Linked DNA regions of Homo sapiens: regions 1, 2, 3, 5 and 6 are each reported to be linked to region 4. Evidence: microRNA targets listed by miRTarBase, many of them from high-throughput screens and not tested one by one. Region 4 holds a microRNA gene; each other region holds the end of a gene's coding sequence.
Evidence for each region. The annotated mature microRNA hsa-miR-1-3p reads UGGAAUGUAAAGAAGUAUGUAU and lies in region 4 at 2,506-2,527, shown strand. An mRNA with a match to its seed (bases 2 to 7 or 8) in the 3' UTR can be bound and repressed. Matches are read on the target gene's strand: a 7mer-m8 pairs with bases 2 to 8, a 7mer-A1 pairs with bases 2 to 7 and ends in A, and an 8mer does both.

Region 1 (5,331 bases), not on the chromosome of region 4:
AGATGGTAGGAGGGGGTGATAAGTAAATGGGAAAAGTTACACAAGCAGTTGATAATCATTCTAAATAGGAGAAAAGTGAAAAGTATTTGGAAGAGTAAATCTCTTAGCCATGATTTTATATGTTAGAGATTTAGCCTTATTTCATTGGGAATAAGTCATTATATAACCACATTTTGTACATTGAAGTGTAGTCTTCCTTATTTCTCATTGTGTGTAGTATTAAACTTTAAGTGAAATAATGGCGTACTTCCTAAAAATGTTAAATATTTAAAGAAAAAGTGAGATTTTTAAGTAGGGCATGAATTTTTATAAGTAGGTATTTGATTTTCATATTTCTTTTTCTCTTTCATAGATATTTGGCTTTCTAAATATGATACTCTGGGGAGGAAATGCTTGGTTTGTGTACAAGGAGACCAGCCTACACAGTCCATCAAATACATCTGCCCCTCATAGCCAAGGAGGTATTCCACCTCCTACCGGAATATAATTAAAGGGAGAAATACACTGTATGAAGTATATGTTGATACTATGACATGTTGCCAACACCTTGAGAAGCATTATTTGTTTCTAATAAAAGTAATGGCTTTGTCAATATATTGGTGGGTTTAAAACTTTGCTGCTTTTTTACATAAAGCCTGTGCCTTTCCTAGAAAGTTAAGATGTAAATGTATTCTCACATGTAAATTTGAAAGTTCAGGGGTCTATTATGAAATGATACACATTTTTAAATGAACCATAATTTTTTTCACTAAGCTGTTTGCCTTCCAAAGTGTTTACACCTTAAGCCTTAACATGTATCTTCATTCAGAAAACAGTTATATTGTCATACCATAGTAGGAAGAAAAACCTTTATTTGGAATATACACTACTGTAAGTTTGTACAGATCATATACCTACCACCTGTCTTTGCTTAAAGAGCCTTGATTACATAAATATGTAGGAAAAAACATATTGAGTTCAAAATTTATATCTAACATTGTTTATGTTATGATTTTTTTTTAATTGCAAAGACTAGGTGTATATTTTTTTCTGTTTTTCTAAATGACCCGTGGTACTTAATAGGTGTACTAAAATTGTGTTGGGAGCAGGGATTTGGAAATTTCTGAGAGATGTGTAGTTAATTTAGTAATTCTGTTTCATGAGATATGATCTGTTATGCTAGTGGTTTAATAGGCTTGCTATGTAAGTAGAACGTGGCTCAACTAGATATCTTTATATGTATGGGCATTACTCTTAGTGATATTTGTTTCCTGTCCTTTGTTGCTCATGCTGTTTAAGTGCAGGCTGAGACCCAGCCTCTTTGTAAGTACAGTAAAATAATCCACCGTTTTTTACAGACCCTAGTCAAAGGGTTAAAAAAATTAAGATTGCTTTCCATGTTTGAAATTTACCATTGAGAGTCAATGAAGTTGCTATTTTGAGTTTAGCATTGATATTGTGAAAATAAGTGCAATTTGGATTTCATGTTTCTTAATATTCATTCTTGTTTCACAAATGAATGATTAAGGAATTATGCATCATAAAGGAACCTAAGTGAGGTATATGATGAGTGTATTGTCTTTGCACACACATATAGGTATATTCTGAATACAAGCTTATTCACATTTTGCTTCCTAATCTTTTTGTTGTACAGGGATTCAGGTTTCTTATTCTTACAACATGATTGTTTATATGTGAAGCACATCTTGCTGTTGCCTTATTTTTGATGCTTTTATTCATGACAAGAATTGTCAATATAAGAATGTATATCTTTTTTGCAACCAATTTAATAAAGGAGTTGAAAGAAAGAGTGCACTGATTGTTAATATTACAAAGAAACCTTCATCTTAAAGGCATTGAGCAGTGCAAAACAGAACTGATTTTCAAAGCAGGAAATAGAATCACAGTTTTAATGTTTGGCAAGGAATAAAACAGACAGAAATGCTTTGGAGACTATGGTTCTATCCTTTTTTCTTCCGACCTCATTTAGAAAATACTTATTTGCAACTCTTAGATTGTTTTCCTGATATACCTTTTCTCATTAATTGTCTAATTAACTAGCAAAGATTCCTGCTTAAGAGTGTGTGCTCTGCAACCGAACTGCCTAGATTTGAATCTTGTCTACACCACTTACTAGCTGTTTAACTGTAGGCAAATTGCCCTCTGTGTGCCTCAGTTTGCTTATGTGGAAGTCGGAAATAAAGTAAGTAGTTCCCTCCTGTTTACTGGGGATATGTTTCAAGACCCCCTGGGATGCCTGAAACCAAGTGTAGTACCAAGCCCTATGTGAACTGTCTTTTTTCCTATCCATACATGCACCTATAATAAAGTTTATCAATTGAGCACAGTAAGAGATTAACAAGGACTAATAATGAAGTGGCACAATTAAAACCATACTGTAGTAAAAGTTATGTGAATATGGTCTCTCAGAATATCTTACTGTACTGTACTACGGGGAACTGAAACTAAGAATAGTTAAACCACTTTCCTGATCTCAGTGTGTTTATGATTTAAAAGTGAATTAACAAATGTAAAGCCCTTAGAACAGTGTTCCGCATTTAGTAGGCACTCTATAAATGTTAGCTACGATTACTAACTTTTGATAGCATCTGATATAGAGATTCTTAAACTAGGAATTCATGGGGCTGGAGCCGTTAGGGTGGTGGTTTTGGACAAAGAGAGGATTGGCGTCAGGCTTTCAAGCTTGTCCCTTTACAATCCTTAAAGAGTTCTGGATCTTTTGGTGTGTTTTATTTTTCTGTTGGTTGACATTCATAAGGTTAATGAGATCAAAATTTAAAACTTAAAAGTATTGAGATTAAAGTAGATCTTAAAAGGACTTCTATTGCCTTTTCCCTTTGTGCTTTTGAATCAACATTACAAGGTTAACCCATTTATAGGATAATTTCCAGGAGAGAAGCAATAAAAGCTTTACTTACTAGGTGTTAGGTTGTAGAGAATTATTTATAAAAAAGATGAGCATTACTAATGTTTTAGTGAACAGAGGTCAGTTGAATAGATGTTTAACCTACTGTAAATGTTAAAGGCAATATTGCTTATGTTTCACATTTAAAATTTTTTCATATAGTATTTCAGATTAATAGGTAAGTATACAAAATAATATTTAACAAATGCTTTATTTGCATCAGATGTTTGTTTGTTGAGACAGGGTCTTACTCTGTCACCCAAGCTAGAATGCAGTGGCGCCATCTCAGCTCCCTGTTAACCTCCACCTGCCAGGCTCCAGTGATCCTCCCACCTTGGCCTTCTCAGTATCTGGGACTACAGGCACGTGTCACCATGCTTGGTAATTGAAAACATTTTTTGTAAAGACGAGTTCTCACTATATTACCCAGGCTGGTCTCAAACTCATGGGCGCAAGCAGTCCTCCTGCGTCAGCCTCCCAAGTGCTGGGATTACAGGTGTGAGCCACCTCACCCAGCGTTGCATCAGATTTTTTTTTTTTTTTTTTTTTTTGAGATGGAGTTTCACTCTTGTTGCCCTGGCTGGAGTGCAATGGCGCGATTTCAGCTCACTGCAACCCCCACCTCCCGGGTTCAAGTGATTCTCCTGCCTCAGCCTCCCAAGTAGCTAGGATTACAGGTGCTCGCCACCATGCCGGGCTAATTTTTTTATTTTTAGTGGAGATGGGGTTTCACCATGTAGGCCAGGCTGGTCTCAAACTCTTGACCTCAGGCGCTCCACCCACCTCGGCCTCCCGAAGTGCTGGGATTACAGGCATGAGCCATCGCACCTGGCTTTGCATCAGATTTTTTTTAAAGGAAATAAAACATTACAGATAAAGCCTTTTCCTTACTGAGGTAAAGTTACATTTTTCCTACCTTTCACTATTAAAAATAGCACACAAATATTCTTCTGCAGTGTGTGAAGGCTTCTCTAAGACCTATCACTAGAAATGGGAACTATTGGAATGTGAGATGTTCATGTTTTCCATTGTAACCTAGGTATTCCAAATTGTTCAGCAAAATGTCTGTAACAAGTTAGTCTCCCACCAGCAATAAGTAAGATTTCCTCTTGCTCCATATTGCCAATAACTTGATGTTTTTGGACTATTGCCAATCTGATAAGTTTGAAATTGTGTCTTTGATGCTTTAAAATTTATGTTACTCTGATTGCTATTTAGGTTGGTGGTCCTTTCCTGTATTTATTGGCCATTTGGTTTCCACCACCCTGTACTGCCTATTCATATCCTTTGCAAATTTTTCTGTTTGGTGCTTTTTCCTGCTGAATTGACGTGCTCTTTATGTATTCTTGGTATTAACCTCTTGACATTTATAGAGGTTGCAAATATCTTCTCTCTGTTCCTGGCTTGCATTTTCACTTTGTGATTTTTGTCATATAAAAGTTCTTTATGGCCGGGGTCGGTGGCTCACACCTGTGATCCCAACACTTTGGGAGGCCGAGGCAGGCGGACCACCAGGTCAAGAGATGGAGACCATCCTGGCCAACATGGTGAAACTCCGTCTCTACTAAAAATACAAAAATTAGCTGAGCATGGTGGTGTGTGCCTGTAGTCACAGCTACTTGGGAGGCTGAGGCAGGAGAATCGCTTGAGTCCAGGAGGCAGAGGTTGCAGTGAGCCGAGATCGTGCCACTGCCCTCCAGCCTGGTGGCAGAGCAAGACTCTGTCTCCAAAAAAAATAAAATAAAAAAACAAACTTTATTTTAATATTAATGTAAGTATCTTCTTCACCGTTGGTGCATTTTGCTGTATTAAGAAATCCTCAATGTCATAAAGATATTAACCTTTTTTCTTCTGAATATGGTTTTTCACTTTTTAGTCGTTAAGCAGTTTGGGATTATATTTTTGTACGTTCATGGTGTCTACTTCAATTTTTATAATTTTCAATACTCCTATCCAATTTTCATAGTACCACCTTTATTTAAAAGTTTATCTTGCCATGCACAGTGGCTCTCATCTGTAATCCCAGCACTTTGGGAGGCTGAGACAGGTGGATCACTTGAGGCCAGGGGTTTGATACCAGCCTAACCAACATGGGAAACCCCGTCTCTACTAAAAATACAAAAATTAGCCAGGTGTGGTGGTAGGCACCTGTAATCCCGGCTACTCAGGAGGCTAAGGCAGAAGAATCGCTTGAACCTGGGAGGCGGAGGTTGCAATGAGCTAAGATGGCACCACTGCACTCCAACCTGGGTGACAGAGCTCAAAAAAAAAATTTATTCACCTCTGTCATATGTCAGATTTCCATATTATTTGTAGTTCTTTCTGTATGCTCTTTACCACTACCATATCTAGCCCCACTCTTTATTAAATATAGCTTTACAGTAAGAATTACTCTCTGATAGGATAAGCACCAGAGCACCATCATT
Region 2 (5,367 bases), not on the chromosome of region 4:
AAATGGGGAGGGTTATGTGGCTAGTAGGGACCAATCAAAGTAAGAATGTAGTTTCTCAGGAAACACATCTTTTCCTGGCACTAGGTTGAGGAAGGAATACTGACCAGGACATGCCTCCAACAGCAATTTCACAAGAAAAAGTGTTCTTATACTACACACATGCAAACCCCCAACAAGAGAGGGCCACATAGGGCCTCCCAACAGGCTCGGCTTGACACATGATGGGTGTTGCTAATTATTAGTTGAAGACAAACCTCTGTACTGCGTGTTACAGCGGGAAGGCATCAGGCGAGAGCAATTACTATAGCTCCTCTGGCAAACGGAATATTCTCCATCTTCTGTCTCAAAGCAGGCAACTGTGCATTCAAGAGACGGGGCTATGGCAGCACAGAAACCAGCAATTCAAATGTAAGCGCTTCAAGGGCAGGAGCCGTGTTCTTTTTTTTATGGTTAAACTTTTTTTTTTTTTTTTTTTTTTTTTTTTTTGAGACAGGGTCTCGCTCTGTAGCCAGGCTGGAGTGCAGTGGCAGGATCATGGCTCATGGCACCCTCACCCTCCCAGGCTCAATCAATCCTCCCACCTCAGCATCTTAAGTAGCTGGGACCACAGGTGCCTGCCACTATGCCCGGCTAATTTTTCTTTTCTTTCTTTTTTTTTTTTTTTTTGTAGAGATGGGGTTTACACCATGTTTCCGGGACTGGTCTTGAACTCCTGGACTCAAGCAATCTGCCCACCTTGGCTTTCCAAAGTGCTGGAACTACAGACATGAGCCACTGCGCCTAGCCCTATGGTTAAACTTTTAAAACAGTCTTTACAGTCTGAGAGGTGACTGTGATTCATACTCCAAAATAATGGCCTCAATGTAGCTTGTCTTCCAGTTCAAGAATTACGTTGCCGACTCCTATCGTCAGAGAATGAGGGGAGGGGTGGAGGCATTCACCAGGCTCAGCCTCTGGTGCTGCCCACAGGGGCCCTTCTCTGTAGCTCCTGACCCCAGCTCAGGAGGGGTCCCGTGCTCACCTTTGAGTGCTGTCTTCAGCAGCTGCTGGGTCTCTGCATCAAAGGACTGGATTTTATACTCCTCTCTACTGGGCTCCCCCATGACTAGCCAGCCCCGGTAGCTCTTGACTGGGCTGGGAATAAGGACAGCACCTGAGGAGAAGAGGCGAAGGGAGCGGCCTCAGGTGTGGAGCGCAGGGCGGGTTCCGTCCTGCAGGCCCTGGACGGGGCTGACGGCGCGCTCGGGACAGGGACTCCTGGGCGGTCCGTGGCGTGCGGTGGTTGGCTGAAGGCCCACCAGGCTTGGCTTCTGGTGGGGACTGGGCATCAGCCAGGCACCTGCTGCTCAGTTTAGAAATCCCTCGCTTGTGGGATTACACAAGAGCGAGAAGCTGAAGCAGGAAAGCGCCCACCCTCCAGTCCCAGCAGGAGGCAGGAGTAGACTGGGGCAGGGTGTGTGCGGGCGGACGTTACAGTTGCTTAAATAAACCGGCCTGACGTTGCTGGCCCAGGAAGATGCCGGGTGAGGGCCAGGCTGGGAACTCCAAGCGGTGCGACTCTGTCCCCAGCAGGTCTCCGAGCCCCTCTCCCCAACCCTCTCTTTCTGGCTTTCGCCGAGTCCTTCGGTCTCAACACCCGCCGCTGCATCCCCCGGATGGGGCCGGCCTGCGTGGGTGGGGACGCAGGCGCCCTGTCCGCCGCCCCTGCCGGGAGCAGCCTGAACTCCCCAGACCCGTGCCAGCTTCTCCCTGGGACAGGCTGGTCGGATCGGCTCCCGAGTGGCAGTAACCCGGCCCTACGCACTCGAGACTCCTAATTCCTGAGCTCCATTCTGGAGCCTTCCTCTTACTGGGGGGCAGGATGATGCGCCCCGGAGAGGTGGCTCCCGCCGGAGGCTCCCCTCTGGCCGTAGGAGGCGCCTTTAGGGTCTCCAGCCCTCGGCCGTTCCCCCCGCGCCCGGAACGCCCCTCCCGGAGGCACAGGGCGGGCTGCGGAGCCCACGGCCCAGGGTCCCGCGGGCGGGAGAGGCGGCGTGGGAGCCGGGACCCACCTGCCGGGCCGGTGGCGCGCGCGCGTGCCCGGGGCCGCTCGGCGCCTGGGAGCGCGCAACCAGCGTCCGGCGCTGCGGGGCCCGCCGTGAGCTCATCTCCTCGCGCGGCGCCGGGGAAGGGTCGGCTCGCCCGCGCCACCTGCCGGGCCCCCGGGGCACTGCCCTGGCCTCCAGGCCGCCCCGGAAGCCGCGCCGCCTGCGTGGGACCCTGCGACGCTGCCACCCAGCCGCAAGCGGAACTCGCTTGGCTCGTCACCCCTTCACCCGGTGCGCCTGGGCCGTGTCCGGGCCCACGCCGGACCCGCCGGCACCTCGATCTTGCGCGTGGCCCCGCACCCAGCCCTCCCCGGAGCTCAGGTGCACTGGGCCGGGAGACACCGCTGGGCTGCGCGGCGTGGGAAGAGCCTGCAGAGCGCGTGGTGGGGACCTGGTGGCAGGAGGAACAGCATCAGCCCTGGTCGCACCACTTTCCCCGCTCCCCCAACCCAGGTAGAGAAGGCAGGGGCTGCAGGGCCGGGGCCAGCCACAACCCTCTCCCGCTCCAAGGAGGACATGGGCGAAGCGAGTTTCAGGTCATAGGGGCAGCCCCGAGAAAGGGGCCCCATTGGCAACTCGCGGCCGTCGGTTGTTGCGAATGCCCCTGAAGTGGCGCGGACCCCACCGCCCGGCGTCTGCCCTGGGTGACAGGAGGGCACCTAGAAGTGGGGGAAGAACTGCCGCCGCTCCTGCCGCGCGACCGGGAGGAGCGCTGCCGGCGCTGCCCGCGTTCTCGCCTCCTTTTAAAAGAACCGCCAAAGTGGTCACCGAAAACGGAGGAGGAAGAGAACGCTCAGCTGCAGCAAAAGAAACCAATGGGCAGGAAAGATGAAGAGAAGAAACTTTAACGGAATTTCATAAAAAATGCATTCAGGCAGCTGCATCCTCGTGGCCCCCGCCGCAGCCTGGACCTTGGGAACCAGCAGCCCAGAGCCAGGAAGCCCCAGCATTCAGGGCCCAGACAGACCCCAAAATCCCAGACCAGAGGCAGGGAAGGATGGTGCGAGGAGGAGCCCAGGACCCACACGCCAGGGCCAGGGCCAGCGCCGGCTCCCAGTGGGTGCCTCTTTCCAAGGCTGGAGAGGGAGGCAGAATGGAGGGCTTCCCAGGTCGGAGCAACCCTACAGGCCGGGCAGATGGAGGGAAGGGTGGAGGTCATGTTCTGGAGACCTCCCCTCAGCCTGGAACTGGTTTCTCCTCTGCCTCTCCGCCTGTGGGTGTCCCTCTGCTCTGGTAACACCCCAGGCACCAGCTGTGCCCTCACCAGGCTACGTGCCCGCCCCTTCCTTCTGCCATCCCCATCAGTGGGCTGCTTCAGAGCCACGGCCCTTCTGGGGCTACAGGGGAGGATGCACCCGCAGCATGCTCTGCACTGAGGAGCAGGCAGTGGGCGCTGATGCCACCTGTCCTGCTGATAGCTCCTCACCCAGCAAGGCTGACCCAGCTCTGGGTGAAAGAGGAGTCAGTGAGGTAGACTGGGGAGAGGCTGCACCTTCACCCACGCCTGCCCACAGCATGGCCCATCCACTTCCTGCACGGGCGCTGGGATCTGCTTTCCATGGAGCCCCACGGCCATGACCAGCCCGGTCCTGGGAGAGGACAGCCTGGGTGGTGGTGTGTCTGCAGACACGAAGGTCTGGGCACGGGGCCCAGAAAGTGACTGGCTCAGCCTGGAGTCTCCCCCAGCACTAGAAGCAGAGCTGCCAAGGGCTGCCGCTATGGAGAACATGGGATTTGAGGAAGGCAGGAGTCCTTTCCCTCATACTTTGTGAGTAGGCAGATGTGCCAGGGGAGATGGAGTAAGATAAGGAATGTGTGTTTAGCTTTAATGTCTATTAAATAGGTTGGAAAAACAGGCCAAGTGTAGGGACCTGACTCCTGCAAAGGGCCTACCGCAGCCCTCTGCACTCAAGCAGCAGCCCCATCCAGACCAGGAGTGTGTTCTGTTCTCCTGGCAGGCAGGGCTGATAGGTGTAGGATGGCGTCTGTTTCCTTTGGAGTGTGGGCTGGTCAGAGGAGAAACAGCAACTTCCTGCTCCTTCTCACTGTGTCGTTGGCTCACCATAGACCACGTCCTGCATTCCCTCTGATTCTCTCATGGGGAGAGCCCTGGACCTTCTGGTGGTGTCCCAGCTGGGTGGGTTCAAGGCTGCTACCCCGCTTGGGGCAGCTGGCCTGCAGGGAAGGGCCAGACGGCACCTCTCAGTGGAGACTGAATCTTCCTTCCTTCAGGAGGCTGCCTCCAGGGAAGACCTGGGGTCCTTCCTGCACTCAGCGCTGGCTGGCTGTCCTGTTCATGCAGTGGAAGACATTACAGAAGAATTCATACGAGAAGAACATGAAGCCTGTGGAGAGGGCAGCCTTCAGCAAGCTGGGGGACAGGCCCTTGAAGAAGCCCAGGGCGCCTTCCTTTTGCAGCACCTGCTTGGCACAGTCCATGAGGCCCTTGTATCTCCGTACCTGGGGAGAGGAAAGGGATGAAAATATGGATGCCCGCTCTGCTCCCATCAACACAGCCCCTGGCACATCACAGATCTTAAGAAGTACTTGCTGGACAAAGAAATGAATGCAAAATAGCAAATTATTTTATTTTTTCGTTGAGGCAGAGTCTCACTCTGTTGCCCAGGCTGGAATGCAGTGGCACAATCTTGGCTCACTGCAGCCTCTGCCTCCCAGGTTCAAGTGATTCTCCTGCCTCAGCCTCCTGAGTAGCTGGGATTACAGGCACACAACACCACGCCTGGCTAATTTTTTGTATTTTTAGTAGAGATGCAGTTTCGCCATGTTGGCCAGGCTGGTCTTGAACTCCTGACCTCAGGTGATCCACCTGCTTCAGCCTCCCAATGTGCTGGGATTACAGGCATGGACAACCATGCCCAGCTCAAAATAGCAAATAAATTAATTTCATTCTTTCTACTGTAATTGGGTTAAGACTGAACAGATGACAGGCCTAGAAATCAGAAGCTGGACAGCGCTCCTTCCTGCCCAGGAAGAACGGCTGCCTGTGGCTCCAAAGGATCCAGCAATGGCTCCAGAACCTCTTCCCAGAGGCATCTCTGACCCTTCATCCCATCCCACCTGATCCCCCTTGGGCAGCAGATCTGAACCTGGCCCTCAGTAGCTCTCAGCCGGGCCTCCCTGCCTCCAGCCTCACCCTCTCCAGCTGACCTCACACACTGCTGCCAGACATTCATCCCCAGGCACAACCCTCCTCAAGCCTGGCTTCCCTCCAAAAGCTGCAGTAACTCCTAGTGACGACATCATGAGAAATCAAGTCCAA
Region 3 (4,000 bases), not on the chromosome of region 4:
TTGTAGATACATAATAGATAACACCTGTTGCAGGGGTACATATGATAATTTTTAATACATTTCTATAATTAATTTTTACTTTTAACTTTCAGGCCGAAGAACAGTTGAGAATTGTTGAAGAACAAAGAAAGATTCATGAGGAAAGGATGAAACTAGAACAAGAACGACAACGTCAACAAAAAGAAGAACAAAAAATTATCCTGGGCAAGGGGAAGTCCAGGCCAAAACTGTCCTTCTCATTAAAAACCCAGGATTAAATTGCAAACTCTGAACTTTTTACAAAGAAAAATGGAAAAACTTTGTATGGTAGCTTCATGTTGAAGTGGTTTTTTGTTTTTGTTTTTGTTTTTTTAATTTGTAAAATCTGGAAAGTTAGCTTGTTCTAATAGGGGCTATGCTCTGCAATTCCCTTTTTTTTTTTTTTTTTCCTTCCACTAAGTCAAATCCTTATCAGATCATTGTTGTATTCTAAGGAGTGACGTATTTTTCACCTGTTTGGATTCTATATTAGTGGTCTGAGGAAGAGCAGATCACATTGTAAAACTATGGATGGTCTGATAAGGCTTTTACTGACCCCACTGACTTCAGAGTTATACTCTGTTTGCTACATCATAATGCTGGTTTTGCTGACTTTTTGTTTTTTTATATATTTATAAAAAAAGAAAAAGTTGGTGATTGCATTGGGAAATTCCCAGGGTATTACTGGACCTATGTGGTGTATTGTTAAACCAGTGTCCTTGTGATACTGTTGCTCTTGATGTTCCTGATACAGGTAAGGAAACAGTTGGTCAACTCTGATACAAAGTATATATACAGTTCAGTATTGTCTCTGTTCATTTTGTTTTTATTTCATTGACAAAATCAAACCAGCATTCCCCATTGTGTAAATAAATGATTTTGCTGAATAAAGTAAAGTCTTAAATTCATATGTTGAAGCAATTTTTTTTAATGTTATGTTAAGTCTTAAAGAGGGTGGTTCACTTTTTGATGGTCAACCATTTAGAAGTCTTAGAACTATATTTCCTCTTGTTTATACTTTTAACATAGGGTTTATATGTACATTAAATATACTTGTGAATTAGTATTTAATGGCTATTTTTACAAATATCAACTTTATGCTGATAGAGCAAATGGCATCAGTGTTACCTTTAAGAAAGACTAACAACATCCAGAAGATTTAAATTCTCAAACCTGTGCCTCTGTTTTAGGATATAAGTATTATCACAAAGTATACTTAATAAAGGCTAGAAAAATGCTTTTAAATTATGGAATCTGAGATCGTTTTCAGAGTGGGCCATCAGAAAGAACTTAGCTTTATACTGTCAAAAAAAGGCTAAGATGGTCGAGTCATTTTCATTGTGTAGTGTACTTGCACGTTTATTTTTAGGACAAACACATTTGAACTTTATGAATTTTTTTTTTTTTTTTGCATGTGAAATCTTATGAATGGCTTTCATTTTATACACTAGAATCTGCCTCATTTACTCTTAACATATGTTTAAGTATACTGGTATTAAAACATTCAAGAAAAGGATATTGATCTAAAATGCTACCTGAGATGCATAAACATGTCATCAAGTAGAGAAAATATTTTTATTTTTGCCCAATATTTTTTAGACAGTTTGATTATTCTTAAAAATTGAAAACATAAGCTAAAGAGATGACTAAATGGTAGATTATTTTGTGTGTGCATGCTAGGAAAAATGCTGTTGCTTTAGTTTTGAGCTCTTCAATGAGTCTAATTGTGGTAAGGAACAATATAAAATCAGTTTAAAGATCTTTAAAGGTAGAATTTTAAATAGGCATGAAATATAGTGAGAACTTTTAGTAAACATACTACTTACTCTAAAATCAAACATTTTATTTTCCTAAAGAATATAGGTTGCCAAAAAATATTTTATCTCTAAATATAGGTTAGCTGTAATTATTTCATGAATTTTTTTTTTTTTCAATGTAACTTTTTTTGGTGAAGATTCATGGTTCCTAAGTTCTGTATTCAAGTTTTTGGAAATGTTTATTTAAAAACTGTTCTATACAAGTGTTCAAAACATTGTATCTAAAGAGAGTAGCCTGGACTTAAAATATTTGAAATCAGCTTATGCGTGCCTTTTAATTTTTTTTTTAAGTTTCTTACTGCCACATATGGTGTGAAGTGACAGTAAGTTGCTTAATGACATCCTGCAGTATCTGCTTGCTTTTGGAGACTCCAGTGAGATGTTGAAATTGTTCCTGTGCTTGGTAACTACTTTCCTCTGCCAGGCTATGGGAAAGAGGATGTAATTGTGAATAATATACACCATCCAGTCTTTAATGTGCTGCAACAATGTAGTAATTTGTTTTTTTCATTTGTTCCCACTGCCTTTGTGTACATAGAAAACTTAAAAATTTCCCCCAGTCTATTAGAAGTTAAGATGTTCCCTAATTTATTAAATATGCCTTTATTCACAATTTGTTTTTTTAGGTTATTCTTAATGCATTATAGAATTAAGTATGACTTTGTTTATTTTTATTACAGTATGTAGTTATTGACATATTGTGGTTTGCAGAATTATCAATTGTATAAACTAAACCTTTAAATTAGCTTGGTGTGAGGACTCTTTAATGCTTTAAATTGGGGAAGGGGTTTGTAGTATGAGATTTTACCTACTTCAGTTTCCCTTATGAAGATGCAGCAAATCAGACTATTTCTACCCTAAGTAATCTCCGTATTCATTTACTGTGCTAGTATGTGTCCATAGCTTTTTTTTTTTTTTTTTTGTATCACCACCTGTCCTGGATTTAGCAGTATCTTAAGAATTTTCAGTGGTTTGTATTTTTTCAATTTTCTAAGTATAGTAAGCGTAGAATCCTGACTTGTTGAACTCTATGTATCATTTCTAATGCCTCATTTTATGAGGAGCCTGTCACTTCACTGACATTTCTCCAAAGCTATTTCTATCCATTAGAGCGTCTCTTTTCAGTTGTCTAAATTTTCTGCATCTTTACACGCAAAACCATTCATCTGTTTTGTATTAATGGCCATGAGAAATACTGAAGACAGGCTATCCTAATTTTTGAGGCTCTCCTCCCCCTCCAGGAGAGCCTTGTGAACAAGTACTAGTGTTACTAATCAGAGGACCTCAAGAGACTGCTGAAGGTAAAAGCCTCAACCTGGAAGTCTAGAATGAGTGTGGAAGCCCAAGCAATAGACCCTACTTTTTTGATCTGTTGAATTGCCATTTAACAGTGGTCTTGATTCTTTCACTATCTTTGTTGTCTGTAACGTTTTTTGTTTACTCTTGCGTTGTTTTTGGCTTTTAACATTCAGTTGTCCGTGATGATGGAAAATGTGGTGCAGTAATCTAGAAGATTTGCATTTGCTGATAAACTACACTGTTTACTTTGTAGATATGCTTAAGATGAGTGGATTGTATTACCTAATCCATCCATCCATCCATCCATCCATCCATCCATCCATCCAGTATTGGTTCTAGAGTAACTGATTTAGTGCTGGCAAACAGTGGAAGTGGGGGATACAGAAGACCTAATTAAGGGATTTGCGTGTGTGAGAGAAATAACTAGCTTCTTACTCCATTAAGTATTTCTTTGGAACTTCCTTCTGGTATTACAAAGTAATACAAATCAGAGTGGTTGCTTTTACATCTATGTAAGTGTTCCACAAGTTAAGTGCTTTTATACCTAAGTCGTCATTGGGTTTAGAAATTAAAACTTAATTGGAAGTCATACTTGATGATTTATCTTTTTCTGAGCCTACAGTGGTTGATCAGAGGATGTTGGGACAGTTCTATTTTTATATTTTTATTTTTTGCTCTAGCTCTAAAGAGCCAGTACATTAGAGAATAGTAACTCCAGTGATCCAGCTGTTTCTCTCATTGTTTTTGTATCAATGCTATAAAAGTGTATTTGTTTTGTTTTTTTGCCCCCCCCCCCCCACCCCCGCCAATGGTCTCTTGCTCTGTCGCCAGCCTGGAGTGCAATGGTGTAATCTTGGCTCTGTGCA
Region 4 (5,367 bases):
CTGAGAGGCTATTTTTTGCTATGGTTGACTAAATATGGTCAGGGAAGAGAGAGGCACAAGAGAGCCTGTTTGCCTGGGAGTGCATGTTTCAAATGCTTAGCTGCCTATAAAGCTGTAACAGTTTAGCCAGTGGTCACTGAGGAAGAATATAAGTTAGCCTCGTAGTGACCATGTGGAAGTCCTGACCTCGCTTGCAGACTTGACCTCTGGATGTGACAAGGTAGCTTCACTACAGCTCTACTATTTAATCCTGGAAACTAAAAACCAAAAAAAAAAAAAAAAAAAATCTAAAAGCAAGAAAGATGCAGACTATTTCCTAAGAAGTCAGAAGAACCCAATGTATTCTGGAGGGCAAAGAAAAACAGGGTGAATGTTTACAGTTATTTGGGGGGAGTAAGGTGTGTTTTGGGTTCTGTTTTTGTTTTTTTTTTTTTTTGTCTTTTTTAGACTATAAAATTAACTTCTGCAACTTTTTCCCCTCTTCTGAAGCATTTCATCTGACAAGCTAGGTTCATTTTCTTGGCCTTTGTAGCAACCTTTTTTGATTGCTTAACTTTCCCTATATAACTGTGCAAGACTGTTATATGACATTCCAAATCAAATGGCCAACACTGATTCAATTTTAGAGTTGTTTTTGTTGGTGGTTTTTGTTTTTGTTTTTGTTTTTGGTAAAGGGAAGAGGGGAGGAGAGGGAAAAGTAAGCTTGTTTTTTGTTTGCTCGTTTGTTTTTCAAATTTATCTTAAAAGGTGAGGTTCTGTGTTCACTGATACATCCCCTTCCTTCACCGGGCTCATGAAAAGAAATGCTGAATCAGCAAATAGAGTGAACGAACAATCAAGATGAGATGGCTGCTGTTGATGTGATTCTCTAGGTTACTACCTTTCTTCCTGCTGCAAATGCTGCATGACACTAAGCTTACAGGTAACAGAGCACCATAAGGCCTGTACTTTTAAGGATGCTTATGACTTTCTGCATGCTTACCTATTATTGACTCAATATATGTTCTCATTGTTAAATTAAATTCTATCTAACCATAGCCTAATTTCACAATTCAAGTTAAGAGCTAATGTAGTGTAAAAAGGAATATTGTTCAGATACTATGGCAGTAACTTTTTATCTTAAAAATGTACAAATACATTATTGTCATTTACATTATTAAAGATTTAGTCATTATTGTTTCAGATTAAGTGATGATTTTGCATCTCTAGTAAGTCACATCCTGCTTCCAAAGTATACTTATTTTCTAAAACTATTAGCTTCTATTTCAAGGTTTAGTCAACCAAGAAACTTGGCAGATCATAAAATACTTTTTAATGCTTACTAATAATTGGCCACAAAAATAAATCAGAACGTGCATGGTGTAATTCTAATGCTGCATTGCTGAAACTGCTGTAGTGCTGGGCTATCTACTGCTACATTCTGATTTGCTCTCTATAAGCTGCACTAGCTTTTTATCACAAGCTGCAGAAATTCTACTATCCCTGCCCTTTTTTTTCCTCCTTTGACAAATCTGAAAATTTCTTGAGGTTTTAAATTAACCTTCTAATACCACAATAACTGAAGGCTACTTACCAACTATAATTTCTTTTCATTCTAAACTATCAAGGTAAATAAAACCCAGGTGCTCACAGACTAAAACCTTTCAGTTCTTTGAAGTGATACTTTCTAAAAGTTGACGATTCTGACAGTTATCCTTTATACTAAAAAGATTAAAGAATCAAAACAACTTAAACTCACCAAAATTAGATATTTCTACATCTATTTGAATTTGTATTCAACTCATATTTGTATTTAACCCAAAGAGAAGCATCAAAGTGCAAACTTCAGGTAAGGAACTAATAAAGAAAAAAGAATGACAAATTTTCAAATGATCACGAGTTCTTATCTGTGACCTTATAAAACACTAACAAAAATTCATAATCTTTAAAAAAGTTCAATTCACCCACACTCATCCTGGTTTTTCTCCTTGTTGTTTCAACTTCTAGAGTCAATATCAGAAATACTTATTGGTTAATTTGTTAGGTTTTGAGTAAGATATCTAGTTTGTAAAAAAAAAATTGAATTTAATTAATTACTATCTACCTGTAGGATCTAGAAGCAGACTACAAAAAAAGAAGAAATTCACTCTGAAGACTGAAGAAACACTAGGCTGATCTTAAGTTTCCGAAATACACTCTGTAACACTACACTGATTCTTTGAATCTCTTGCAAAAAGAATCAAACCAGGACAAAGTTCAACAGATAACTGGTCAAATGCTTAGGAATGTCTATGTCCACCAAGAATATGGAACCATTAATGCCATGCTTCAGGTAAACTTGTTACAAAATTTAGTCTTCGATAAATTAGTCTCTGCAAATGATTTACCATTGCTCTACATTAGTAAGCTGAATGTTTCACTAACAAATAAGAAAATAAAATATTTCATGTTTTTACAGCTAACAACTTAGTAATACCTACTCAGAGTACATACTTCTTTATGTACCCATATGAACATACAATGCTATGGAATGTAAAGAAGTATGTATTTTTGGTAGGCAATAAACCACCAAGGGAGAATTAAACTGAGCTAAAAGAAGCTCTTGCTTCTTTCTACGTGAATGACCGTCATATGGTAAATTAACCTAGTCATGAACAGATGACCTTTGGCAATACTAACACCAAAAAAAAAAGGTTATCTACTACTGATAGATAGAAACTATCCCTAAGGTTTTTATTTCATGAAGGAAAAGAAGATCCAGTGAAGTAGATTTCAATTATCATGAAACTCCTTTTAAATCATCTAAGTTTAAAACAGACATCTTACATTTTTAAATTAGGCACTCTCATTATTAAAATTTGACTGCAAAAGGGAAAATAGTATTACTAGCACAAAAGAATGAGGAATACACATGACCTATTTTCTGTCTCCACAATTTAATCTTAAGTATATCTCATTAGTAGGGCTCACTGATTTGTACAGAAAAATAAGATACTAAGAGCTGGCTTCATTCACATAATAAGCTATTTCTTCTCATTTTGATAAATGTATAATTAATATTAGAGGAATTTCTGACCAAAAGTTTTGTTGTTTTAAAAAGGCTTTCTTTTTTGACAGCTACAAACATAGTGGCCCTTGTCCTTCCTTCTCAAGTTTATCAGGGTCTTAACCCAAATCTCTACTTTAAATGTGAAGTTAAAACTTAAAATTAATTAAAATGTAAGATTTAAGCATGAAAAATGACAAAATTCTGGTCCACAGCTGTAAGTCAGCAGGGTATATTGGTAACAGACTACCAAATATTTAAAAGAAATTAATTTATCTGTATTATCTTCGAATTTGCTTTCTCCAAAGAGGGCATGTAAAATGAAAGCACTATAGTCAAGAACCAATTTATACAGATCGAAGAACTGTTTTTATTGTACTATGCAATTACAATTCAATTTCTCTAAACTTGATCAATCCATTGTTTAGAAATATCAAAATACTTTTATTTCACACAGTTTGTATATTATTTATAAAAAATTCCAAATAATGCTCTTAGCAAAATTTATAAGCAGTACCTGTTTTAAGCTACTAATGACAAAGTTAGAAAATAAGAGTAATATTCACATATTCTAACCATTTCTTACTAAAAGTATTATTTCAACTGAAATATTTACACATGTATAAAAGCATAATATTTTAAATTTTTTGTATCAGAAATTGAATGGAAATGACTAAGTTTAACTATAGTTCATTTTCTGTTTAATAAGACTAGTTAATACAAAGATGATTTTCATTTTATCAGATTATAAAGAATGAGAATGACTTACACATGGCATCATATGTGTTACTGCATGTTTACTGGAAATTATAAAAGGCACATAATTTTAAAATTCTACACTTTCAAAGAAATTAGTTCAAAGCTTAACTCACATAAGCATAGCCCTTCTGATCATCCACAAAACAGAATGGCAATGATTCATGTTCTATTTGGTAAGTTTACCTGTATAGGTCCTAAATACCAAGAACTCAAAATATATACCTCAAAAGTAGAGGTTCTTCTATAAAAATACTCAAAGCTTATTACTCTACTTGTGTTTTATAATAAACAGTTATATTGGTCATTCTATAGGTATACAAGTTGTTTAATAATCCTTCTCAAACATCCTAGCAACTAAGACTCTCTTTGCTATAATATTAAGACTATATAAATAATCCTTAGAAAATAAAATGACAGGCTATTCATTTTTAAAAGTAAAATTATATGCTGATTCTGGTGCTTGCGAGTTTAACTTATCTAAGAGTATTTTCAATCACTCTAAAATGTCACATCTATCACTTAGATCAGCTGTTCATTTTTAACTGAGTACATATTAAACTCTGGGCATCTGCTGACACTGGTATAACTCAAACATTTCAACTGTCTCCCTGACAGGGATAACAGATGCTGACATTATCAAATGCTGTACTATTTTTTTCCCATGGCCTCTCCTTGCCCCGATATGGCCAGTATATGAAACTGAACTGCCATCCAAAAACACACTTGAGCAACTGGATCTGCTAAACAGCTCCCATATAACTAGTAAAAATAGAAGCCAGTATTATTGCTATCTTCAGCACTTAAGTTTAGGCAGTTTAACACCTGTTTCACTTCTACTAGAAAAAATGATGAAAAAGAATTGTAGTTAATTTCACCAGCAGTATGATACTTACCAACCAACAGACGCAGAATATACTTAGTGTAAGAGTCATTTGCATACTGCCTGAATTAGCGTTGACCTCTCAGTTTAAAATAGTAACTGTAAAGAATATTTCTCTACTCTATATTTCTCTGAGAGCACTTAACTTTATAGGCAAATTATAATTTATCAAACTTTTATTTTATGCAAGAAGACACCCCTCTCAAGACATTGAAATCAACAGTAAAACCACATTATAACAAAAATTTACTCTGATTTTTCAAGTATTATCCACACAATAGATTTTAATACTTGTATCCATGGATTGTAACTAACCACCATGTATTACTAAGGCGATAATGAGAAGTAACTTGGCAATCTGTACCCAAAATGACAAAGAACTTAGTCAAGGAAATAGACCTTTAAAAGGGTTAAATTACTAAGCTATGATTAGTAACACCACGTAAGCAAAAACAAAGAAAAACTGGCATGCATGGTAGTTCCTTTCGACACAAGTCCAAGCAATACACTGAATACACATGTGATCTATTTATAAATCAAAGGGCAGAGGTACTTTCTTAAGGCCACTGATATTCCTACACCCATCAACAATTTGCTATTAGCCCTCAACTATAATGCTAAAAGAAGCAGTGGCAGTAGAAGGGGGTGACTAACTGAACTCTTCCCCAACCTTTTAGCTTAACTATTTATCTGGTTTGCTGCC
Region 5 (5,367 bases), not on the chromosome of region 4:
TTTCTTCATTTCGTTGTCGTTTATAATCTTCCCTGCAAAGTGAGAAATGTTTAATCCTGCATATACCTAATAATTGTGTCTTCTGGTAGGTTTTACACAAAAATGGAGAGCTTTCTGACTTGGTGATGGGCATGTGAATGTGTAGAGGCATGCATATATGCAATTTTACACCTTTTAGTAACGTATTAGCATGAAATAGGATGGAATTTGACACTTCCTGTTAATCTCCTTTGTGAGATGGCCACAGAATGCTTGAAAACTTGTTTCTCCTCCTATGCCTTCAGCACTGGCAGCATGCTATCATTTCATAGCTGCTCCTTAGGCTGCCAGTTTTTTGTTTGTTTGTTTGTTTGTTTTGAGAGGGAGTCTCGCTCTGTCCCCCAGGCTGGAGTGCAGTGGCGCGATCTCACTGCAAGCTCCGCCTCCCGGGTTCACACCATTCTCCTGCCTCAGGCTGCCAGTTTTGACCAAATTACTTCCATTGGCTGACTGCAGTGGCCTTGAGAAAATCATATTATTGATGAGTTGCCAGACAAGTTACTTTTATCACTCAAGGAACAACCAAATGTTGGAGTAATAAATCACAAGGAATACAAGGAATATTTGGGGTAAAAACTCCAAAAAGTTTGAGTTTTGAAAGACTTAATCAGTGGGAATAGATAAGAATGATATACTTTAACGCTTATGAGGAAGTCTTAAAAAAAGGATTCTACTAAAATGTTAGCCTTATTTCTGCTTTTTTCCCCCTTCTCTTTCTTTCATATTTTTTCTTTTTTCCAGGAGCATGGCCTGTTCTTATTGATGACTTTGTGGAATTTGCACGCCCTCAAATTGCTGGGACAAAAAGTACAACAGTGTAGCACTAAAGGAACCTTCTAGAATGTACATAGTCTGTACAATAAATACAACAGAAAATTGCACAGTCAATTTCTGCTGGCTGGACTGAACTGAAGATCAATCCTCACAATTCAGACTGAGGGTTGAGACAAAACTTTAAGGATACATCTTGGACCATATCGTATTTCATTCTTCTAATGGTGGTTTGGGCTTGTCTTCTAGTCTGGGCCGCTCTAAACATTTATAATTCCAACATTGTGGATTTCATCTTATATCTGTGGACCATCCTAGTTTATTCTCCCATAAGTCTTAGAAGCTTTATGGTGATTATTTTGAGGTTTTCATTCTCGCATAAAGCACAATGCTGTCTTCATCAGAAAACAGTTGGCATAAGAATTAAACATATGAACATCACAAAACAATTTATAAAAACTTCTTAAATATACGCTTTGGGCTAGTTGCAAAGACTATGCTAATAGCACTTCCAGTGAGAGTGATATATTTAAGTGTACTGGATCTGGAATGGTGTTTTGGTTTGGGGGGAATTTTTTTTTTTTCCTGGCAAATCACATGTGTTGTTGATGTGAGTATCTGATGAAAAAACAATGTCAGAATAACCGACATGAAAATTTTTTAGGATAACTTGGTGCCTACCTGAAAAATGTATTGTGTTTTAGACTCTTGATTTCAAAAGGTTCCACAGAACTAGTCTGCGCTTACCTTACCCATGTTTATATATAGCTGTCCTACAGGGAGCTTTTATTTAGAAAATGTCTGCATAATGTTAGATTCTTCTCCTGTCTACATTATGCACTACATAATTGGACTTCATTATGCTTTTGAAATGCTTATCTGCCTGTCACATAAGTTAAACTATTTAATTTGTTTTGAATGTTTTGGATTGCTACACAATACAATATTCTAAATTTAGGCATGAGGGTTTTTTTGTTTTGTTTTTACTTTTTTTTTGTCATCGCACTATGGAACACAAATGGAATTCTCTTAATTTATAAGAAGATAGTTGCAGTTAAATTTTGAAAATGGTTGTAATGAGCCATGAAGTTCAATCTTTATAATATAGGTACTGCTCTTTCAGACAAATAGTCCATTTTCGATGACTTATTATTTTGTTGAAATTGCTTTAACTGCTAATCACTGTGGTTGCCAAATATTTACTTCAGGAGCAAAGATTTTCAAACAAGCATACACGATGCAAAATACCAATCTGGCTTCTAGTCTCTTTACTGTTTTCGTTTCACTCAGATTAGCTCAGTTTTCTCATCAAAGCAGAATGCTATCTTGTATGTATTTTTTTCATTACAAGCCCCATGAGCTGCTTTTATGCTGAAAATGGTCATTTCCCTGTTCACTTACTGACATGTGAAGAAGGGTTTCTTGCTTTCTTAAACATTTCCGTAAGGCAGGCTAGAAATGTAATACTTCAAATGTTTGATGATTATGGTCTTTTGATAGGAATAGATTCTGCTTGGGATATATATCCAGGCACTCTCTAAGGTCTAGGGTTGATATTAACAAAGGAATGTACTTAGAATAGCAGTACATTTTATGCAAATATGGAAATTATTTTAAGAAACAATGACATATCAAAACTGCTTTTTACATGATTTTGAAATAGACTAGAAAGCTTTCCCTATAGACATATTAATATTCCAATCATAACTTTAATTCAAGAATGCAGTTTTACCAAAAGAAAAATTTGAAAATTTCTATTCAGGCTACTGGAATTGGTTATTAAAAGAAAAAGGAAAAAGAAGAATCTTGCTGCTTTCAGTATTTCCTGATTTTTTTGTAAATATAAAGAGGAACTTCAATTATGAAAAATTTTTAAAAGATATATATATCTATATATCTATATATATGTACTGTTTTGTTTCCTGTCTTGAAGATTTTGAGTTATGGTTATTGGTTTCAGATTGATTAATTCACATATGCTGTGTTTTGAAATGAGATCCCATTAGCTTTTTTTTTTTTTTTTTTTTTTCAATATAAAGTGTTTTCTTTAAAAGTCATATTGGTTCGTGGCCTAGTGCCTTGGATTTTACATATTTTTCTTTTTAAATGCAAAACCTTTTCAACAAAATAGTGTTTGTCATCAGGTTGGTACTAAACATTTATAATTACTGTGTAATTATAAACAAAAATACATAAAGCTTTGAATATAATTATGTAGCATAAAAGTTAAGGTTGTTCACTATGATGGCATCTTAGAATTAAACAAAACTTTTACTAGGGCTGAAAAGAGAAGACTGATTTAATGTGGTGTGATTATTCTGAAGATAAATGTCTGGCTACAGGGAATATTTTGTACTAAAAAATGATTACACATATGGCTGTGTGTGTTTGAGTCTGTGTCTGTGAGAGAGCCAGAGAGAGTGAGAGAGATTGACAGAGAAAGGGAGAGACACACACACGCCCCTTGAATTGCTTTAACTCCTAAGTGTTTCAGTCCTCATTCCGGTAAACTCCCCATGCTGATTCTTTGTTTTAAACTGAACCATAGGTACAGTTTCCTTTTTGCCAAATGTCAAAACAGGTACAAATTTTAAAATGTAATGCTTTTTAAATAGAAAAATGTATAAAATTAGAAGTGCCCACATATAAAAAATACTTGAGATGAAGATTATCTTTAGTGAATATCATCTGCATATCTCTGTAAGTTCAATTGTGTTTCTTACAGTCCCTGTCATATTACCAACAGAGGCAATAAAAGCTGCAGTGAAATTGCCATGACTAAATCTTTTCACATATTTCAGTGTATTTTTTTTATAGATTTAAAATATACCTGAAAACTTTTCTAGGAAGAATAATTATTCATGGAAAGAGCATTGTAATGGCATGTTTTGGGGAGAAAAGACATGCCAAGTCTTGTTTACTACATTTAAGATGTTTACAACTATACTGGGCTGCTTTATTAACAATACTGTACTTGCATAATATGGCATTATAAGTACATGTCCTTCCTTAGACTTTTAAAAAGTTTTAATGAGAGAAAGTAAATTTACTCAACAAAATAACATGAGAAATCCTTTACGTAATATCTTTACTGGGGAATTCTTATTTAAGCAAGGTACACTATTTTTTCCTCAGACTTAAATGAATGAAGTGTTCATTTATTTTTTATTTGATGATAATCAAGAAGTGAGTAGTAGTAGCTAACTTAATGTACACTTTGCTTAGGTTTTTAAACATGTTACTATTAAGACTACGTATTGTAAACCTTCTGTAATTTTCACATATGAATGACAGGAGAAAGTTAAACCTAATCGAAGGAGTTTTGGAATAAAAAAGTGGTGCTGGGGAAATTCACCATGGTTCACAAAGTATGCCTTTGTAAAACTGAATCAACTTTTAGCAAGAATTAATTTATGTAGTTTTAAATGTTAAATTGTGTATATTTAACAGAAAATACTTATCTGGCACCTCAGCAGTTTTAATGTTACCTTATACTTTTAACAGTATGATTTATATTGAATACTTAGATGTTTTCATAAGATTTTATCAAATTTGATAATGTAATGATAAAATGTTTTTTTAAATGTGAACTATTTAACATATAAATGGGGACACAAAACCTGAATTGTGATTTCTACATAATGTGATAATTAGGGTTCAAATTATGACTCATCATTTAATTGATTATAAATGAGTATATTTCTGAACTCTTTATTGCCTCCATTTTTACAATCATAATATAGCAATAATTTCTATTTTTATTTCATAGGACTGTGGTGAAGTTATTTATCATGACACCTTTATCTTTGATTTCTGAGGGAAAGGGGTGTATATTTTGTAGTTAAGATAAATGAGAAAGTTCCTAATAGTACAAATGCCCTTTTCCAGGTTTATCTTTGCTATTTGTTGCCATTTTTCTTAAATATTTGCTTTATTTGTACCCGATTTCTGGAGGCAAATAGTGCTGTTTTTTCAAACTCATAATATAGTTACATAAATGATTTTATCAGAGCATTCTTGCTATCTTATTTTCTTTCCTACCTGTTGAGTAAGTAGCATTTCTTGCTCACCAACTCATTTATTTGACTAGGTTCAGTGTTTCCTATTAATGTGTTTTTTTATTTTCCTTTGGTTGATTTTGAAAAATCTGTCACAAATAAGGAAGTTATGGTAAAAGATGCACAGCCTTTGTAGTTAGTGGAATTCTCAATAAGTAATGTCTTTATGGAGTTTTAAAGGGAAATTATTTAAAGGGAATCATGTTATAGTTGTCCATTTTTTAAATTGAGATTTTAAAAGTGTTTTTAAGTATAGCCCAATTTTCTATTTACTTACAAGTGCTTCATGATTGTTTTCTTTTTTATTTTTTGCCATCATGCTGTGCAGAAATCATAATGTAGCTTGTAATACTTCAGAGCATTGGTCTTGAAGCTGTAACTTGGGGCTGCTGTCCTTCATGAGGTAGGGCCATAGCAGGCAGGCCCTTTCCCACTTCCTTTATGGCATTCTACTTTTATCTGTTGTAGGCTGTTAGTGTTTCATATTCGATTTGGTTTG
Region 6 (5,367 bases), not on the chromosome of region 4:
GCTTTTAATAGAGGAGCAAGGAGCAGTGTGGAGAAGGTAGATACGCAGACAGGAAGATCACTCTGGCTAGAACCAAGAGTGGCTGATAGTGGGGAGTAAGATTGCAGGTGGATATATAGCAGTGAGGGTGGGTAAGAACAATTGATAAGACTTCAGCTTAAATTTTGAGTAGTATTGCAGGGATGAAAACAAGTAGATTCTGGCCATTTGTAGTAAATTTTGAACCCGTCCTGCTAACATTTTAATGTATCTTGGCTTTTGTTGTGGGGAGCACAAGTGGGTCTTGCTATATTGCCCAGGATATTCTCAAACTCCTGGCTTCGCAAGCGATCCTCCTGCCTCAGCCTCCCAAAGTGCTGGGATTATAGGCATGACCCACCATGTCTGACCAGTCTTGGCATTTTATAATAAGCATAATCTATCTGAAAATGTCACTTAAAAGATCATTTTGTTTGCATATCTATTCACTAGTCCAGTTAGTAGTCCATTAAAAATTCGCATTACTTCGGGATTAATAGGTATAAAACAAGTTTTTTCTTTTCCAGGATTATATTCCATCACAACAAGATATTCTGCTTGCCAGAAGACCCACCAAAGGCATCCATGAATACGACTTTGAAATAAAAAATGTTCCTTTCAAAATGGTTGATGTAGGTGGTCAGAGATCAGAAAGGAAACGTTGGTTTGAATGTTTCGACAGTGTGACATCAATACTTTTCCTTGTTTCCTCAAGTGAATTTGACCAGGTGCTTATGGAAGATCGACTGACCAATCGCCTTACAGAGTCTCTGAACATTTTTGAAACAATCGTCAATAACCGGGTTTTCAGCAATGTCTCCATAATTCTGTTCTTAAACAAGACAGACTTGCTTGAGGAGAAGGTGCAAATTGTGAGCATCAAAGACTATTTCCTAGAATTTGAAGGGGATCCCCACTGCTTAAGAGACGTCCAAAAATTCCTGGTGGAATGTTTCCGGAACAAACGCCGGGACCAGCAACAGAAGCCCTTATACCACCACTTCACCACTGCTATCAACACGGAGAACATCCGCCTTGTTTTCCGTGACGTGAAGGATACTATTCTGCATGACAACCTCAAGCAGCTTATGCTACAGTGATGTACAAAAGACTTGCTGTTTTAATATCTTTTTGTGTTTTTGATGTTTTCTGTTTGTTTTGTTTTTTAAAATAGCAGTTTACAACCAGAATTAGAACAATCTTAATTCTACGTTTAACTTCTTGAAAATCTTAGTACTTTTTCTGCGGCCTTTGGTTTGTGGCTGAAAGCTGTTGAGTGACTCATCGCCAAGATTTGCTGTAATGCAGGCTTTGATCTGTTTCACCATGGCTTCTATTCAAGTCCAGTTAAAACCTCCCAGCTGACCTCAGACTAGGCATATTTCAGGCTTTAAATTATTCTACTTTCCAAACTGAATTCTCCTGCAGTGCCAAGTATCAAAGGTGTCCTTAAATACTTGTAGGGATGAGGTTAGGAATATTCAGTTCCAAAACAAGATATCTTCTGTCCGCCTTACATATAGCAGTGACACTTGTTGCCTAACTTTATGGTGACCTCCTATTTTGTAAGGGCTGTTAGAAGTTCTATCTAAGAAATGGCATTCTGTAGGTTTATAGAAGGTTTAGCCTTCATATTTTAATTGCTTGTATACACAACAGCTGTTTTGCTTTTAGATTTCTGTGTTTCTGAAGGTAATGTTCTTCCTGTTTTCAAGTTTACATAAGGATCTTTGGTCTGATGCTGATGAAGAGTTCACAGGTGGTATGGGAGAGCAAAAGGCAAGCTAATGCTGTTTACCGTGTTTTGGTCAAACGTAACGAGTGAAATAGAATTTGCCTTTCTCATATTTAATTATCATGTAGTTTAATGTACCATATGTGAAACATTCTGGCCATAGCAGCAACTAAAAACTGCAAGCAACTTGGTAACAGAACTTTCTAAATAAACTTAACCTGTTCCAGAATGTCATGTATTTGACTTTTAAGCCCTATCTCAGTTGGTCAGTAAAGACCAATCCTTACTGTAGGAAATCATTGTTGTATCATCACAAACATCTATCTTTTGCTGTCCTGTCCAGTCCCATCAACTCCACACTGTGCCATTTGTGGCATCGTTTTGTTTATTTGGAGTTTGCTAAGGGCAGTATTTTTCTGTCAAGACTATTCAAGAAGGCATTATTTGAGATTCCTGTTCATTCTTGGTGTGTCTCTAACAGATACAGTATGTATACATTTGTATAATTGTTGTTGTTGAAAGTCCAGCTTTTTTGAGGTATATTTTAAATGTTTTAAGGATGCTTCTAAGGATCAGTAGTAATTTTTTTAGTTCGCACCTAAAGATGATTACATTGACCTCCCCCGACTGCTTACCAAATTAAAATGTGTCCACGAAGTAGCTTTGTGATCGCAGATACATTCATAGTGAACTCATCAGAATGGCTGGTTTGCAGTACTGAAATACTATCTTCTAGGCTGTATGTAGTGCTACAATTAGAGAAACAGAAGTCCAAGGCTGGCGACAGCTTGAAAAGTCTGACAGCTTTTCTACTTTTCCTGAAAATTTTAAGACTGTGATATCTGTCATTTTACTGTATAGCTGACTGTGTACTCAGGTATTTTATTGGTCCTTGAAAGATTGGTCGTTATGGATCACCCAGCCTTTCCAAGTCAGTGGCTGTTGTTCTGTCTTGCTGTCTGATACGAGAGTGGGGCTTTTCAGTGAACTAACCAGGGATTGTTCTTGACATACCTGACTTTTCTCACATTTGAACTTCCACTATCATTGTATCCATATAACTTCTAGCATTTTCATGCCATGGTAATCCATGAGCTACACATACGTAGCCCGGCACCGTGATGCAAGTTCATGGTATCGTGCATGTTCGTGGTATCATGGTATCATTCATGCGTGTTTGAATAGTTCTACATCTAGTGCTTCTTGCCAAAAAGAATACATTGTTTAAATTCACAAAATTAGCATAATTGCAGTGCTAATGAATATCGGAATATGTGCACAGTAACATTTGGACTATTCATTGGAGAGTTTACCCATACATTTAGCAAATTGAATGGCCAAAACATTTGACTCCAGTGAGGGCTCAAGTTAGATCCCTATAGAAAGAGGACACTTCATCTTACTTAAGTCATAGTTAAGATCTGTGATACGAACCATAGATATTGCCTGACAAAGCAGAAATCACCAAGTTTCCCCCTTTTGAATTACCACCAAGAAGTGTTGAAACACCAAATAGATATCATGTTATTTTGGGCATTTGCAGTTTTCTTCCCTGCTGCATGTAATGTCTCAGAATCAACATTCTTTTAAAATCTAGACTATATTTTGAGGCAATGAATTACTTATATTCAACTTAGGCTTGTTTTGACATTCAGTAGAACTTTAAGTTCAATCTAAAGGCTTCAGTCCACATTTTTTTATACGTTGTATTTTAAAAACGTTTGAAAGGAGTCTTACACCTGTATCATGAAAACTGAATCCTTTTGAAATACCACTATATGAAGAGAGAGATGAAATTTAGTGAACAGAATTGAAAAGGTGCTCATAATTTCACTATGCAAACTTACCCCAGTCTCTAAAAAAGTAATTTAGATTTAAAGTTCTTTGATGTATTTGATTTTCTAAATCTTTATGGTTATGATTTGGAATAAAATGTGCCTAATCCTGTGTTACATTCTGTTCTTAAATCTGAATGCCTTCTCATTTAATTCTGAGGAAATATCACACAAGTGTCTTCATTGACCTTGAAGAAATGTATATACAGTTGCCTTATAAAACAACATAAATTTAGACCATAACTTTTATAGAGAAAGGGTTTTGTCAAATGTTTTCTGAAAATCTGAGTAATTCAAAGCATGCCTCTGCCCCTTTAATATTTTTAATAACCTGCATTGTTGCTGTCTGCCAAATATTAAATTGAAATCTTCATTTCAATTTTATTATCTGGAAAGGGCACTGGATTGCTCTGCAACCAAAGAAAGCAATATGGAATGAAAAAACTCATTCACTTTTGTCTTATTTTCTTTTAAGGTGTATTGGCATGTAATTTGCATAGAGAAGGTCCTCTGGTTAGTCTCTCAAATTGAGGCTGTTTAGGGAAATCCTTATTCAGTTGGTGGCAGTGGTTGGTTTAAAGTAGAAGGAAATAAGATCGCCTTAATACCAGAAATGATTAGAAGTGCTGATTTAGATTCAACAAATACCATATGTCCTTATCATTTTTTGTAAGAAGAAATTGGTTAAGTCCTAACTTTCAATGTGTACCCAAATACTTGTATTTATGCTTTTGATAAAATGTATTTTCAGCATTAATACACATCCGATTATGCCTTATTTATATATGAAGAATAAAGTTACCATGTTACACTGTTATGTCCTAAAATTCAAATCACTATTTGAGAAACCCTCAAATTGGTGCTTTCATTATATAATGATACATTTAGACAAAACCCCAAACTAAGCCATTTGAAACAAGATTCTCTCCATTGCAGTTTGTAGCAATGTTATTTCTGTGTATGTCATGAGAAGGCTAAATATCAGTGTTAATTTCTTGTTTGAATCCGTGAAATCATGCCTGTAAAGCCCAAACATTTGTAACAAACTCCCTAATAAATTTAGAGAAAGTCACTCTGTTACCATTTCATTTATTTTAGTTTTATTTGAGAAATTAAGACCAGAAGTTTTGCTCATGTCTTTTTCACTTGGAAATCTGACTTAGTACCTAGTTAATTTGTCTCTCTCCCATCATTTTAAGGCGTTCGCTTCTGTTAATCACAGATGATCTGTCCTTGTGTTGTGCTGCTTGACTAAAAGCACTGTTTTGTTTTGTTTTGTTTTGTTTTTTAATGATAGGATACAGGGTGGCTTTTCAGTCTAGTAAACATGAGGAGGGGAGAGATTGTGGGTGGGTGTGGGTGTGTCCGCATGTCCCAAATACAGCACATGCCCATTTTTTTATGGTACGAGGTTAGGGCTTATTAATAAATGTATACTAGATCTTGAAGTGTAAGTCTAAGTCTGAACATTTTAAACAAGTTGGACTTTATGGCTTTTTCAAGTTCCATCAAGTAGATACTAGTCTTAGGCTGGTAGGTGATTAACAACATCATTTGGAGTACAGTGTTTGTACCACTAGCATTCTTATGTCTGTACTTGAACGTGTAGTTAGCATTTAAGTTATGTTCACTCTTGTAGCATTCAGGTCTTACCATCTGGTTTCAAATGCGAGAGCTTATATGAACATTGTTTTGAAAGCATGAATGATATGGCAATATTTTATGTCTTGATAAGGAGAGTTTTGTGACATATACAAATCTGCTGTTGATGATGAAAGT

Region 1: the mRNA of SYPL1 is a reported target of hsa-miR-1-3p. The part of its 3' UTR that is shown has no 7-base or 8-base seed match.
Region 2: miRTarBase lists SLC25A19 as a target of hsa-miR-1-3p. The part of its 3' UTR that is shown has no 7-base or 8-base seed match.
Region 3: the mRNA of ARGLU1 is a reported target of hsa-miR-1-3p. The part of its 3' UTR that is shown has no 7-base or 8-base seed match.
Region 5: miRTarBase lists DCUN1D1 as a target of hsa-miR-1-3p. The part of its 3' UTR that is shown has no 7-base or 8-base seed match.
Region 6: the mRNA of GNA13 is a reported target of hsa-miR-1-3p. The part of its 3' UTR that is shown has no 7-base or 8-base seed match.

Annotation. Positions count from the first base shown.
Region 1 is chr7:106,086,961-106,092,291 of GRCh38, reverse strand. It overlaps SYPL1 (synaptophysin like 1), which reads left to right. Exons shown (of 5, transcript NM_182715.4): 5 at 353-1,787. The coding sequence ends at 487. Among named protein-coding and RNA genes, the nearest start is that of SYPL1, 23 kb to the left of the region's middle.
Region 2 is chr17:75,269,093-75,274,459 of GRCh38, forward strand. It overlaps SLC25A19 (solute carrier family 25 member 19), which reads right to left. Exons shown (of 8, transcript NM_001126121.2): 8 at 3,900-4,547. The coding sequence ends at 4,359. MIF4GD (MIF4G domain containing) reads right to left here and starts at 2,139. Exons shown (of 6, transcript NM_001370592.1): 1 at 2,052-2,139; 2 at 1,022-1,153. The coding sequence starts at 1,103. It overlaps MIF4GD-DT (MIF4GD divergent transcript), which reads left to right and starts at 2,207. Exons shown (of 1, transcript NR_036520.1): 1 at 2,207-4,803. RefSeq lists silencers at 1,706-1,775, 1,886-2,545, 3,516-3,565 and an enhancer at 3,054-3,841.
Region 3 is chr13:106,540,253-106,544,252 of GRCh38, reverse strand. It overlaps ARGLU1 (arginine and glutamate rich 1), which reads left to right. Exons shown (of 4, transcript NM_018011.4): 4 at 93-2,580. The coding sequence ends at 257. Among named protein-coding and RNA genes, the nearest start is that of EFNB2, 6.6 kb to the right of the region's middle.
Region 4 is chr18:21,826,175-21,831,541 of GRCh38, reverse strand. It overlaps MIR1-2 (microRNA 1-2), which reads left to right and starts at 2,454; the gene lies at 2,454-2,538. All of the region lies in intron 12 of MIB1 (MIB E3 ubiquitin protein ligase 1), which reads right to left. MIR133A1HG (MIR133A1 host gene) reads left to right here and starts at 136. Exons shown (of 3, transcript NR_110369.1): 1 at 136-220; 2 at 748-922; 3 at 2,090-5,367.
Region 5 is chr3:182,940,587-182,945,953 of GRCh38, reverse strand. It overlaps DCUN1D1 (defective in cullin neddylation 1 domain containing 1), which reads left to right. Exons shown (of 7, transcript NM_020640.4): 7 at 781-5,367. The coding sequence ends at 860. Among named protein-coding and RNA genes, the nearest start is that of DCUN1D1, 37 kb to the left of the region's middle.
Region 6 is chr17:65,010,008-65,015,374 of GRCh38, reverse strand. It overlaps GNA13 (G protein subunit alpha 13), which reads left to right. Exons shown (of 4, transcript NM_006572.6): 4 at 546-5,367. The coding sequence ends at 1,118. Among named protein-coding and RNA genes, the nearest start is that of GNA13, 44 kb to the left of the region's middle.